Regions from separate parts of the Homo sapiens genome. Here region 1 is linked to region 2. The links come from fine-mapping of genetic effects on gene expression. Tissue or cell type: monocytes after Pam3CSK4. Region 2 holds a variant in brackets; the other region holds the start of a gene. All regions are shown on one strand. Distances are between the middles of the regions.

Evidence for each region. PIP is the estimated chance that this variant, and not a neighbour inherited with it, causes the effect.
Region 1: it holds the start of ASAP1, and the variant in region 2 is fine-mapped to the expression of ASAP1 in monocytes after Pam3CSK4 (Quach 2016, PIP 0.95).

What each region holds. Positions count from the first base shown.
Region 1 is chr8:130,439,820-130,447,349 of GRCh38, forward strand. ASAP1 (ArfGAP with SH3 domain, ankyrin repeat and PH domain 1) reads right to left here and starts at 3,855. Exons shown (of 30, transcript NM_018482.4): 1 at 3,641-3,855. RefSeq lists silencers at 3,410-3,489, 3,540-3,699, 3,710-3,799, 3,840-3,939.
Region 2 is chr8:130,212,558-130,220,087 of GRCh38, forward strand. It overlaps ASAP1 (ArfGAP with SH3 domain, ankyrin repeat and PH domain 1), which reads right to left. Exons shown (of 30, transcript NM_018482.4): 5 at 1,999-2,144. Among named protein-coding and RNA genes, the nearest start is that of ASAP1-IT1, 80 kb to the right of the region's middle. The variant AAAAGGAAAGGAAAGG/A (reference allele first, on the strand shown) is at 3,418.

The sequences.
Region 1 (7,530 bases), 230 kb after region 2:
GGCTGGTAATAATGTCTCTAGCCTGTAAGTCTCCTCGGAGGTCCAGGCCTCCTGCCTGCCTGAAATCTCCACAGGATGCCTCCTAGACATCTCAAATTTAGGATGGCTGATACAGAACTTGATTTTCTCCATGAGCATAATCCTCCTAGTCTTCCTGTCTCCCACAACAACGCCACCATACACCCAGCTGTTCAAGCCAGAACCCCAGGAGTCACCCTTGAGTCCTTTCCCTTGCCTCATTCCAATGTAATCTATCACCAGATCTCATCAATGCTATCTCCAAGATCTAAGTAGGCTCCTCCCACTTCTCTCTACCTCCATTGCTGCTGTCCAGTTCTAAGCCACCATCCTCTTTCCTCCTAAGTGGTCTTCCTGCTTCTACACTTTGCCCCCTATGATCCATCCACTTTTCATAAAAGCAGTCAAAGCAATCTCAAAAATGTCCATCAGGCTGGCCATGGTCGCTCACCTGAGGTCAGGAGTTTGAGACCATCCTGATCAACACGGCGAAACCCCGTCTCTACTAAAAATATAAAAATTAGCCAGGTGTGGTGGTGCATGCCTATCATCCCAGCTACTCAGGAGGCTGAGGCAGGAGAATCACCTGAACCCAGGAGGCAGAGGTTGCAGTGAGCTGAGATCATGCCACTGCACTCCAGACTGGGCAACAGACCTAGACTCTGTCAAAAAAAAAAAAAAAAGAGTCAATCAGATATCACTGCTGAGCTTAAACTCACCAAAGCTTCCCTTTGTACTGGGTGGAGGGACTCTCCCCAGCATGGCTTAGAATCGGCTGTGTGATCTCGTCCCTGCTTCCCTCTCAAACCTCACCTTGCGCCATTCCCCCCATCTCTCCCTTACACTCTAGCCCTGCCTTCCCTCACTCCTTGGAATACACCAAGCTCTTTTGTGCATAGTCAACTTTGCACATTCCCATCCCTCTGCCTGGAAGGCCCTCCCCTGCAATCTCTCTGCCTGGCCAGTTCCTTCTCCATTTTCCAATCTCAGAAAGGCTTTCCCTTCCAAAACTAGGACCAACTTGTGCCACCAGCCCCTACTTTGGTCCCAGGTTTGTTTCCTTGATAACAAGGAATCACTCATCTGTTAGAGGTTGTTTCTTCTGCTTCTTCCTTGTTGCTCATCTCCTCCAGAGGAATGCAAGCTCCAGAAGGGCAGTGCCAGGTCTATTTCGTCCACCACTGTATCATCAGGACTCCACACAGGGCTTAGCATGGCGCAGGTGCTCAATGCATGGTTGTTCAATTGATGAATTAAAAGAGAAAGTGTGAGGCTGACATTGAAAGATGAGGCTGGAAATAGAAGGCCTTGAGAACAGGGTCCTATTCATCTTTGCAGGACTGGCACCTCCCACAGGGAAGCCACTTAGCAAATGTTTCACTGGATGCATGAAAGAAAAACTCGATTCCAGATAAATCTGAGATGTGCTGTCCTTTCTGGGCAAGGCTCCCCAAGAAGTTTCCGCTCCTCCTTAGGACTTCTTAGGAGGTAACATGTCTAGGGCATACAGCAAGTGCTTAATAAATGGGGTGACTGTTACTATTGCTCACGTGGGGATCACTCATGCAGTCTCCTAGAAAAGACCTTCCGGAGCCCATGCCAGATACAGCAGTGGTTGGGTGAAAAAACGGCAGGGAAAAATGAGAACCGAGCAGCAGGATCCAAATACGGCTGAGACCTAGGTGGGGAAATGGCAGGAACAACACTGTCCTAGCTAACTGGGGTTCCCTTCTTTCCTCTAGACTTCAGTCACCTAGGTGCAGCATGGAGATGCCAGCTGGGACGTGAGTCTTCACAAGGGAGGGCTCAATCTGAATGCACACATTCATCTTTGGGCCTGCCAGGCTTGCACTGATTTTGAAAATCTGGCTCGCTGTGGCTGGTGAGGACTGGGGAGGTGTAGAGAATTTCAATTTCCCTCACCAAATGGCAAGCTTGCGAAAAGTCCTTTCTCTCCAACATTATCACATACTAAAAATGAAAAACCAGCCATTCAGAGCTCTCATGAGAAAAATAGATGGGCTGCTTAGCTCACAAGAAACAGGAGGGCTGAAAATCAAGTCTAGAGAACATCAGAGGGTACATTATGTGCTAAGATACTGCCCTTTTTTGGACCTGGGAGTTTCTATTTTGCACAAAAGAATGGGATAGGGAAAGTAATTCCCCGTATAATAAGCCACTCATTTTATACTTCAAATCCATTTGGTAGCTGAATCTCCAAATCCACTTAGTGGCGTTAGGTGATTTTTGTTTTTTTTAACTCCCTATCTCAAAATATGCAGTTTGAAATAAGTGCATATCTCAAAAATAGCAGCATTAACAGGACAGAAGAGAAGGCACTAAAGTGGTGAAGGCTGTGACGCAAAGAAGACGTTTCCAAATCTGTTTCATGGCTAACAGATCAAAATCTAACACAGAAGGGGCATGGGACTGAGCCTGAAGAAGTGGAAACTACTCCTGGCCATGTGATCTTGGGCAAGTCAGGTCACCTTTCTGGGCCTTCTCTGAAGGGGGTGAATCAGTTGTTCTCAAAGATCTTTTTCTTTCCAAACTGTTCACTGGGTGTTTCCAGAAGACCCGCATTTTCTTAAAGCTATCTGGCCGCGCTACAATTGCAAAACAGAAAGGCTTTGGGATGAAGGTTGCAATACAGATAACCCTGGCCTAAAAACTGATAAGCTTTTACAATCCCAAAACATTACTCAGCAATCCAGGTCCTGATGTCATCCCAGAATCAATCACGCCAAGATAACCTAACAGAGTAGACAGGGGAAAATGCGAGAGAAAGTTCTTTTGCTTTCCTGACGAGTACAGGTAAAGTTGAGGTCAAGTTAACGATGATGGTCTGCAGTTGACCATCCTTCTCCCTGAGCTACTGGAAAACCACATTATTAAAGGAAACTGCTTTAGAAGTGCCCAAGATGAACCTCTTGGGATGTATCAAACCGCAGAAAACCGGACACCGGCAAGTTTCTTTTTTCTTTGAAACTTCATGTCGCTCTCAGAAAACGCAGCAGGTCCCAAAATGGTACAAGCAGAAAACACAAGCCACTTCACGGTCCGCCCAGGAGCCAACCCCAAGCTCCAAGTAGGACTCCCCCCACCCCCTTCCCTTTCGTTTCTCTTCTTTTGCTTTAGGCAAGTGGCCTGGGGCCTGCCAAGCAGCGCCGGGTCCGGGTAGGGGCCGGGGGCCGCGGGGAACTTTCCTCGGCTGCACCAGAGACAATGCCGGGAGGGCGCCCCATCGGCGGGGTCCGGGCCGCCAAGCACGTCGTCCCGGGCCCTCCCCCGGAGGGGGACGCGAAACCCCCCAGGGCGGGCCCCGTCCCCGGCCCCACTGCAGGGGCCCCCTCTCCCGAGCTGGAGGCGAGGAGACCTCCCCCCCCCACCGGGCGGCCTCGCCCGGCCCCGCAGAGCCTGGCCGCGCGTCCCGCACACGCCCCAGCCCAGGGCCGGCGCCCTCCCCGCGGAGAAGGACACCCCGCTGCGAGAGGAGCCGGGAGCCCGCCCCGCGCCCCGTCCCGGCGCCCTTCTTCGCGCGAGAGACTGGGCAGGGGGCGCCCGCGACTGTGGGCGACTCCGCCCGGCCCCGCCGAGCGCGCCCGAGCGCCCCGCAACTCACCGGGACCTGGCGGGCCGCTGGGCATTATTCCATCGCGGGTTCGGCCGGGCGCTCGCGGCTCTCGGGTGGGAAAGCGAACTGCGACCGGGAAGCGCCGGCTGGGCGGGAGGCGCGGGCCCGGGGCTGCCCAGCGCACAGTGCTCGCCCGCGGCAGCGGCCAGGCCAGGCGAGGCGCGGGAGCCGAGCGCGGCGCAGGAAGGGGCGGGCGACCATGTGCCGAGGGGGAGGAGGCCGCGGCGACGCGAGCGGCTCGCACGATCCCGCTCGGCGGCGGAGGGCGCGGGTTTCAGGAAATCCAAACACTTCGACAGGAAATCGGAATCCTGACTAAGCATTCCCGGCCCCGAGCCGCTCCGCGCCGGGGGCTCCCGCCTCGCTTAACCCTTGGCCCGCCGGCAGCCACGAGGGGGGCGTGGGAGGGGCCCCAGACCTCGGCCGGGGTCGGGCGTCCTTCGCCTTCCGCCCCATGCCCCGGCCGGCCGGCCTCCTCCCCGCCTGAGGTGGAAGGGGTGGGATTTATCCACAGAAAACCCTGGACGCGGAAGGTGCCTTTCTAAGGCCGGGACAGCGGCAAAGGACGTGCCTGTCTTCCATCTGCAGAGGATGGACCTGCACTGTCCTGGCCGTTACCCCTATTTTCAGTAAAGGAATGATTTCACCAGGCTGCCCCCTTTCACCACTTCCTCTCTGCTCTTATAATTTTATTTTTGCCCAGTGCCAAGGGAACAGGACCTTCCCAGTCAGGATAGTATAGGAACAGTATGGAGAGTAATTGTGTGGGCTGCAGGCTCTGTGTCCGGTTGGAATATGGCCTTTTTTCTACTCATGTTACCTTGAGTAACTCGCTCAACTTTCCTGAGCCTCAGTTTCCATTTATGAAATGGATGTTAATTCCACCCTCATAGGTTTGATCTGGAAGCTGAATGTTTAGACAGGGACTGGCACATTGGAAACGCCCAAATAAATGATAGCCATGCTTGTCCTTATTATTACCATTAAAAGACATCAGAGAAAGGAGGATTTTAATTTGTGGGATGTATATTGTGCATATCTATGTCTACTTTCAAAGTCAGAGACAGTAGTCTTTCTTTAGAACTTAATTTCCCTCCTAATCATTGGGTGATTGTTTTTCTTTGCAGCATTTCAGAAACGGCTCTCTGCAGAGGAAATGGTTAGTGGCTGTGGCAGACCCCCTTCTGGTGAAATCCGAAACAGAAAACCTCACAAAATTTGGGATTTTGCTCCTAATCTGAGAGTCTGGGTGTAGTGGGGAGTGGGGGTTGTTAAACAGTCTGGAGCGGATTTACAAAGTTTGGGAAAACCAAAATCAATCTCTGACTGGGCAGAGAGGTCGGGCAGCCAATGAGTGATTCATTGTGGTTTCCCACGGAAATGCCACATTTCGGGGGTGTCTACCTGGAGGATGCAGCTTGGTGGTTTTGCTGTAAGTGTTTCAGATTCCTTTGAAACCCAATCAGACTTTGAAGAGGGAACAACATGCTCATGAGCGAAAACAGAAGCCTGAAATGAACCTGCTGGGAACTGAAAGTTGGGTACCAGCTCGTTTACTCCAAGTAAGGAACAGATACCAGTTTTAGACCCAGCATTGTTCCTTTTCTGCAATTCTCTCTCCGTGGCCAGAAGCAGTAGGACAGCTCTGAGCTGGGCACCAGGAGTCCCAGGGTCCTGCTCCAGGCCCACTGTAGCTGCCGTCCCCTCTGCCTGGAAGAACCCTTGTATGGCTGTTCTTGGCACGCAGCTCACAGCCCAGAAGTCAGCTCCGCAGATAGGTTTTCCCCAACCATGTGATCTGCTTGTCTCTGGCACCTACACCCCACCTCCACCTCTCCCAAACATAGCGCATCCTGTTTGATTGCTTCATAGCCCTTGTCACTGTTTAATGTAGCCTACATGATTGGTTGCTTATTTTTTATCTGCCCCCCACTCTCCCCACTGCATGGGTAAACTGCATTACAGCAGTACCTTTGCCTGTTTCCTTAGAACAGTGCTGGCCCATATGAGACCATCGATAAACACGTGTTGAATAAATGAAAGAAGCAAACAAACTAGAGTTGCAGATGGGACCTCTGCCTGAGGTAGGGTGGTTCACTCGGTCCCGCAGCTCCCTGTGGCTTCCTCTTTGGTGGAGAGATTCAAAAGGGAACGCCCAGTGCGGTGGAAGGAGCACCAGATGGCTCTATTAGTGCTTCTGGAAAACTAAAACTATAAGTAGGCCAGGCGCGGTGGCTCACGCCTGTAATCCCAGCACTTTGGGAGGCCGAGCAGGTAGATCACCTAAGGTCAGGAGTTTGAGACCAGTCTGGCCAACATGGTGAAACCCCGTGTCTACTAAAAATACAAAAAATTGCCGGGCGTGGTGGTGGGCACCTGTAATCCCAGCTTCTCCAGAGGCTGAGGCAGGAGAATCGCTTGAACCCGGGAGGCAGAGGTTGCAGTGAGCTGAGATCATGCCATTGCATCCCAGACAGGGTGACAGAGTGAGACTCCGTCTCAAAAAAAAAAAAAAAAAAAAAAAAAAAAAAAACCTAAGTAATTAAGACTGTCAAATGAGGTAACTATAGTCTCATTGGTATAGTCCCAGTTAATTACTCCCTCCTTTGTGCTTCCTTGGCATTTCTGTTTAAAGAATATATTTGTCATATTGTATACTCACTAGATGACTGTTCTCCTAAATCAGATGGAGGAAAGGAGTCCACATTTGTTGACCACTTGCTCTGAGTGGGTCCCTGAGCAAGGTGAACTTGAATTCATTTTAAGGCATCGGTTAAGTGCCTGTAATGTGCTAAAAAAATCTGGGCCCTACATGTGCAATGATGAAAAAGAACTATTCTTGCTAAGAAAGACAGGAAAGCTCTATCTAGTAAGCAGAGAGATAAGTACTCTTATAGAGTCATGTCCAGGGTATCCAGGGCTATTCAGAACATTGAAGGTGGAGTAGGGTGGAGATAAGTTGGAAAATGCTTCCAAGAAGTGGGTGCTCTTGAACGAACTTTCAAGGAGGAGATGGGACCTATGTAGCTAGATAAGGGGGCACAGGCCTGCCAACCAGAGTAACAAGCGTGAGTGTTAGTGATGCTCGGCTCCATGTCCCCTGGGCCCACCTCTGAGCTCACCGGCAGCTGCAATGAGCTGCCCTCTGTACAGAGAAACTGTCTATCCAAAGCAGGCCCCCTTTCTCCTCTCTACCAGGAGGCTTTCTCAAGGGCTGTGGGATCTTGCCTAGCCTGGAAGTTTCCAACAGCCCTGGGTCAGTCCTTAACCAAACAGTGGATGAATGTGTCAGCCTCCCCTTCCCTAAGGAAGATCAATTCTCAAATGCTCTCAAGGCAGTTCCTCAGAGGAATTCCCCAGTAGGAATGAGTCCAGTTGCCCCCAGCAGTCACTCCCTCATTAAGTCACTCTTTGATTTTGCCTCTTCTCCCTTCCTTGCCTTACTTTCTCACTTCCTTATTTGTTCTTGGGATCCCAAATAAAGTAACTGCACCCATCTCCTTGTCTCAAGGTATACTTCTGGGGAAACCCAATCCAGAGTAGTGTTCATGCATATATTCACAGATACTGGCTGGGCACTCCCAAGTGCCTGAGTAAAGACTGAGCATGAACACATAATATATGTGGGTGACTCTACCAGGTTCAGCATGATCTGAGAACATGATGCATGTTCAGACATGGAAAACAATGAGACTAAAAAGCCTTACACCATCTTGCAGTTGAGGAAACTGAGGCACAGGAGTGTTGAGTAACTTGCCCAAGGCCAACCACTAGTGAGTAGAGGAGTGTATTAGTCCATTTTCAGGCTTCTGATAAAGACATACGTGAGACTGGGAAATTTACAAAAGAAAGACATTTAATTGGACTTACAGTTCCAC
Region 2 (7,530 bases):
ATATATCTCAATTTGCCTCAGTTTCCTCATCTGGATTAAAGGTACAGTAACCACAGGATTGTTGTAATGTCTTCAATGAAATAATCTACATAACACACCCACCAAACTGCCAGGTTCATCAAAAACATTCAATAAATCTCAGATGGTTTTGTATGGAGACAAACAAATGTATTAGGTGAGCAAACGCAGATGATGAATGTTGGCCTGAATGGCCACTGAGCTGTGTGTATGGCACATATACACACAGTTGAAAGGAACCTGCAGCGTAGCAAACCGTAGAGATGAGATTGGTCCAGGAACCTTGGAGGTGATGACTCTTGACTTAAGCCAATACATTTGGTCCTTGGAAACTAAAGCAAGACATCAATGCGAAAACACCCATCTCAGAGAAAACAGATCTTCCTGCCCAAGCAAGTCCTTTACCAGCTATTACCAAAGTGAACTGTCAGTCTTGTTTTGCTTCCTCTCTTTCTACCACACCACACTTTGAGCAAGGCCTCCAGTGAAAGTGCAGGCAATGCTCAGAGTGAAGGAAAACCGAGGGTGCTCTTCTGAATAAATGAGGTTTATATAATCTAAGATTTACAAAAACATGGATTTGTTAAATCCAAAAGCACAGAAACATTAGAGCCAAAGTTCAAAATTATCCTTTCCGAAGTTTTTGAAAATAATAAATAATTCTATGTTCGATATTTATTTTCTTTCAGATTTGCTTATTCGCTGTGTAAGATTAATTCAATGGCATACATCGCCAATTAGAAAAACTGTCAGGAAGACAGACACATACACACGTTTATTTATTGTGACAGAGAAAAAGAATATTGTAACTGGCCAAATAGGTTAATGGAGTGTAGAAAGGTAGTTTTCATTTTTCAAATAGGTTATCTTCATCTGTAAACTAACCTTTTGTATCTAATGGATTATGACAAATTATCACCTAAGGCCACAGAAGCCTATGTGATACATGAATAACTGACCTAGGTTAAGGACATCTTGAGAATGAGTTCTGGATCCTTAAAGGAGGTAAAAGCACAATACCAAGAGACTGGGAGAGAAGAGGGAACAGCTCCTCTTCTCCAGGGCAGGGCTAACTTGGAAAAGCATGATATAAATAGTTTTCCTTTGGCACCTTTCAACCTCATTGTACTCCTTTCTCTGGGGACTTAGGAGGATTAAATTATTTCACTGGGTGGCTCTTAGAGAAATAATTTCATCCCCCAAAACCAACAAAATCCAAATGATCCGTCCAGGTGGTGTTACCCAGAACCTTTCTAAGTGTGCACATGGTATGAGGGCTGGGGAGGGGGTTGCAGCACAACATGGGGATGCCCACACACGACTGCCTGGCAAACAGTTTCCTCCACCACCCCCATCCCTGGGTCTGCCTCCCGGGGCCAGCACCTCTAGTGTCTCAGATCGTTAGGGATTCTTCCTGTCATTTACTTTGGAAACCAGAGATTCCTTAAATCTCAAAACCCTTTTCTTGGTTGGGGGTTAAAAGGATGTGGGGAGTTGAGGGAGGTTCATTATTTATATATCAGAAACCAAAATGCATGATCACCTTCACACAAGTGAGATATAATACTTTCAATGTGTATTTCCAATGTATGTTCGACACAGAAATCATCATTCTTTTAGCCAATTAAAAAGCAAAAGTTGCTAAAGGTTATCTTTAAAAAAAAATCAATGGTAGAGATGTGGAAGAGAATTCAGGTTAAGCAGTTTCTCTCTCAGCTTCGATAAATCTACTCTATCAGCTGGGCCAAAGGTACAAATTCCAGGAATTTCACAATGGGATTTTCTTTAAGCAAATCCTAGGCGACTAAAAAGCTTTTTAGTTGAGGTGTGGAAGTTACCTAGGACTAAAAAGCTTTTTGTTTTTTCTTTCTCACCCCTAGGACCAAGGATTGAGGGGGAAGGATTATTGAAATGTTCTCTATATGACGTAATATTTTGGAAAGGCTGTAATTCTTTTTACTCACATATGAAATGTCTTACCAGATTTTTCAGCAGTGTGGACAGTTCCTTTGTAAGAGTAGAAAACTTGACAAACGCGGTGCCAAGGTCGGGGTTGTCTCGACTTAAAAAATTACTCCCAAACTTATCAAGAACTTGTGCATAGTTTTCTTCATTTTGTACATGATCTAAAAACAAAAAAGAAGAAGAAAGGAGTCTGAACTATTATTTGCCACAATGAAAAGTTACTTTGAACACCGATCACTACGAATTCTCAAAATGGAAGCATAAACTGTATCAATTATTTATTGCACATGTCCCAAAGGTTAGGTTAGGAGTACACTAAATATTCTAACTCACTCTACTAAGGAAGATTTTCCCTTTTATCTTTTTTTCTTTTTTTTTGAGACAGAGTCTCACTCTGTCTCCCAGGCTGGAGTGCAATGGCACAATCTCGGCTCACTGCACCCTCCGCCTCCCAGGATCAAGTGATTCTCCTGCCTCAGCCTCTTGAGTAGCTGGGATTAAAGATGCATGCCACCATGCCCGGCTAATTTTTTGTATTTTTAGTAGAGACAGGGTTTCACCAAGTTGGTGAGGCTGGTCTCAAACTCCTGACCTTGTGATCCGCCCACCTCGGCCTCCAAAAGTGCTGGGATTACAGGTGTGAGCCACCGCACCTCGCCTTTCCCTTTTTCTTTCATAGAATTTAGCTCATTTATAGTCCAGTTAATCCACTAATTCCTCATAGGCTGAGGGGTCAAATTACATCACATTTTCAAGCAATTAAGAAACTATGATTGACTGGGTATGGTGGCTCACGCCTGTAATCCTAGAACTTTGGGAGGCTAACGTAGGCAGGTCGCTTGAGCCCAGGAGTTCAAGACCAGCCTGGGCAACATGGCGAGACCCCGTCTCTACAAAAAATTAACAATTAGCTGGGTGTAGGGCCGGGAGCGGTGGCTCACGCCTATAATCCCAGCACTTTGGGAGGCCAAGGCGGGCCGATCACGAGGTCAGGAGATCGAGACCATCCTGACTAACACGGTGAAACCCCATCTCTACTAAAAATACAAAAAAGTTAGCCAGGTGTAGTAGCGGGTGCCTGTAATCCCAGCTACTCGGGAGGCGGAGGCAGGAGAATGGTGTGAACCTGGGAGGCGGAGCTTGCAGTGAGCCGAGACCGCGTCACTGCACTCCAGCCTGAGCAACAGAGTGAGACTCTGTCTCAAAACAACAACAACAACAACAACAAAAAACAATTAGCTGGGTATTGTGGCATGCACCTGTGGTCTCAGCTACTTGGGAGGCTGAGGCAGGAGGACTGCTGGAGACTGGGAAGTCGAGGCTACAGTGAGCTGTGCTTGTGCCACTGCACCCAGCCTGGGTGATAGAATGAGACCCTATCTCCAAAAAAAAAGAAAGAAAGGAAAGGGGAAAGGGGAAAGAAAAAGAAAAAGA[AAAAGGAAAGGAAAGG/A]AAAGGAAAGGAAAGGAAAGGAAAGGAAAAAGGAAAGGAAAGGAAAAAGGAAAGGAAAAGAAAGAAAAGGAAAAAGGAAAGGAAAGGGAAAAGGAAGAAAGAAACTATGATTACCTGAAAAAGTAGAAAATTCTCCTTGGAAAAACAATCTTGGATTGCAAAAGAAAAATTCATGTGTCCTAACAGGTTTCTTTCCCTGCAACTAATCTTCATTTCCTTTAATTTTGTCTAAGTTCCAGGTCTGAGGAATAGTATTTGTAAAATGCTTTTCACAGTCCAGCTCTTGCTGCAAAATGTTCAGAATTGGATCAGATGAATTAGGTGCACATGAGAAACATTAATTTGTGAAAATTTCTCCTCCCTGAGCTTTTGTTTTCCAATCCATAAAATGAGTCCAATATCTAACTTACAGAATTGTGGTATTGATGAGCTGACATAAAGTATATAAAAGTTTCTCAGTAGAGCAAATACTGCATAAACAATAACCCCCACTGCCTTGAAACATGTTCTTTGTCTGGCTTCCAGGATATCACACTTTCTTGAGTGTCCTCTTGCCTCACGACTGGTCCTCTCCATTGTCTTTGCTGGTTCTTCATCTCTCTGACCTCATCATGTTGAGGCCCCTCAGTCTTGGACCTTTCTTCTCTATTTTTGCTTACTCTCTTGGGATCTCAGTCTTACGGCTTTAAATACTTTCTATCAGCTGATAACTCCTAAATTGATATCCCCAGCCCAGAAAAACCCACCCTCTGTAATACAGACATATATTCAACTACCTATTCAGTATCTCCACTAACTATGTTGAATCTTAACATGTCTAAAACCAAACTCTTGATCTTCTTCCCATTCTTTTTCTCACAGTCCCCTATCTGTGGCAATGGCAAATACACTCTGCTTCTGAAATGGTCTCTCTGTTGCTACTTTTGCCTCCCAGCAGTCTGGTACCAACACAGCATCCAATGCAACACTGTTATACTGTGCATCAGATCTTGTGACTCTTGTGGCAGACATTACCACTTGCCATGGATATCCAAGTTCCCAATCCTTGCAGGGTTACAGAAAGGAGTACTGCATTTCCCCATACTCTCAAAGTAAGGCAGGAAATATGGCATGCACCATCCAAGGCCATGTGAGTGGAAGTGATGCATACCACGTTCTCTTGGAAGCATTTCAGATGCCTGTACTCAACTCTCCACCTCCCTCCTCTGTTGTGGCGCACAGAGAAGCATGAATTTGTAGGGAGGCCCACAGTAGATGCATAGTATTTACATAATGAATAAATGAATAAATAGATATTTATCAAAGTCATATCTTTTTTTTTGGTTTTTTTTGGTCATATTTTTAAAGGCTTTACAATAAATTACTTTTCTTTATAAAGTCTTCCTTTAGTTGGAAACAATCCTTCCTTGCCCACAATTCTCTGTACCTCTACTGCAGTATTTTCTACCACATCCTATATGTGTATATATGTATATATACACGTATATATACACACGTATATATGTATATTATATGTGTATATATGTGTATATATGTGTGTATATATGTACACACACACACACACACACACAGATCTTTTCCTACCACCAGACCGCAAGAGGCAGGGATTACCTATGGTTCACTTCTGCATCCCTACCCAATGGACACTGCTGTAGTTCTTTCAGTGAGCTGGACTTTCAAAGCTGCGGCTTGGTTAATATTTGTTGACCTGGATTTATTGAATTCCTTTTCAGGAATTTAAGAAGCATCCCTTTCTGAAATAGCGTAGGATGTTCAATAACTGAGATCAAATTTTTAAATTCTGCTTTCAAACACACCTCAATAAGTGCATGGGTGCAATGGGCACTCATGAAACAGAACATGAGTCTGGATTGGGAAATAACCCAGGAAGTCTAAATACCATGAAGGAAACAAGTGTCACAGCAGTCCAATGAAACGAAATGAGGCCCTAGCCAGCCTTCTAATCACCACCACATTAAAAATTCATGGTGCCTGCAGTGGTTGTCAGCATCTCAGGCTGAGATATTAAAAAATGCAGCTCTGGTTACTATCCAAGTTCACTCAGAGGAGCGGCTCAGAAAAACAGAAAAGAAAGGCCACACGAGCTCAACCGAGAAGACACACAGGTTTCATCTCCCTCATGTGCTGGAGCTACTCCTGATACCTTCTGTCTGAGGCCAAAGAGGTCCCACCTTACCACCAAGACTCCTACCTCATCTGATATCCTTTTCTGATTTTGGAGACCTATGAAAAAAGAATTCAGCTGTGTGTTCATTTTACCTGCTCCCAAGGGAAGCACCTCAGTAGTAAAAATAGGTATATAGGCTGCTTTCTTGAGACTATCAAATATTTCAAGTGAAAAATATAATTAGTTAATCGAATATACATGTATGCGCCACCCAGCTTAATAAATAAAATATTAAAGAATGATTCCCTATTCCCCTACTCCTGTCCCTCTACCCAATTCCGATCTCCTTCCTTCCCTCCCTAGACACAGCCATTATCCTGAATTGAAATTTCATGCAAAGGTTAGAAAGAATTACAAGAAGCTCTCCATCTATCTGTGATGACAGACTCATTAAAGAATAAGATGGAGTTGGCTAAAGGCTAAGGCAGAGACAGGCCATAGGAAGAAGGTGTTGGGAGAAGCTCAGAACCTTCTGTGACCCAAATCCTTATGCTTTCTACAATCTCATATTTCACCCCCACTAGTTCTGCAAGGGAAGAATTATGCTTATTAGGTAGATGAAACATGAAATGTGACGTGAGTGAGGCAGAAGACTAGATAAGTATAGGCTAGGTCATGGGTCCTGTATGTTTTGCTAATTCCACAGCTGAATAACCATGTAGTCTCTTTCCATATATATATATATATGCATATGTATGTATGTATGTGTGTATATACTGGCATATATGTCTCACATATATATACATGTCTCACATATATATGTGTATATATATAATTTCCTAGCATAAAAATATAACAGTTTAGTAAGATATATCTTGGGGTAATAATAACAATAATAATCATAATCCTATGAAAATAGAATGATAGAAAATTAAATGTAAGGTGCTTAAAATAGTGTCTGGCATGTGGCATGTGCCCCAAAATGTCAGCTACTGTTACCGCTATATATCCATGACTACTTACAATACAGAGCGATGTCTGTAATATCAAACAGAATAAAAACACAGGTCTCACATGTCTTTTTTTTTTTTAACATACTGTATTATAAAGTTAGTAAAGTCAATACTAGAAAGATCACACACATGTCCCCTAACACACACACACTTGTGTACAAAATTAAGGGTTTACCCAGCAGACTTTCAACAGGCACAGAGAGTGAGACAGCAAAGAACCATGATTCTGGTGGAGGAAATAGCAAGGGCAACGGCAGAAGGGAGGAACACACTGCAGAGTACAGTAAGCCATCTGAGGGGAATGTCAGTTCAGAGGTATAGGGAAGAGGAGGGAAAGAAGGCTGCGGTGGTGGGACACTGCCACAGGAATGAGTGTTTCTGAAGGAGACGGACTGATAAGGCAGAAAATGGCCCACTCACTTCAAGAGGTTTCAGAGAGCAGGATGCAGCTCTGTTTTAAGATCTTTACTACATGCGAGTGCTAGAAGACTTTTGGGCACATAGTACAGTGGGAGTTAGGGTAAGTAGGTGAGAAAAGAAGACTGGATAAAAGAAAAGAACAGAGAAATGTGATCCATCCGTTAAGAAGACACATTCTTTCCCAATATTCCTAAGAAACTTCTGGCATCCACGACATTGTTGCAGAAGGCAAGATAATTGTTTTGTTGCTGATGTTGAGACAAGGTCTTGCTATTGTAGACCTGCGTGGAGTGCAGTGGCATGAACATGGCTCACTGCAGCCTCAACCTACTGGGCTCAAGTAATCCTCCCAACTCAGCCTCTGAAGTAGCTGGGACTACAGGCACATGCCATCATGACCGGCTAATTTTTAATTTTTTGTAGAGATGGGGTCTTGCCATGTTGCCCAGGCTCGTCTCCAACTCCTGGGCTCATGTGTTCCTCCCACATTGGCCACCCAAAGTGCTAGGATTTACAGGTGTAAGCCACCACGCCTGG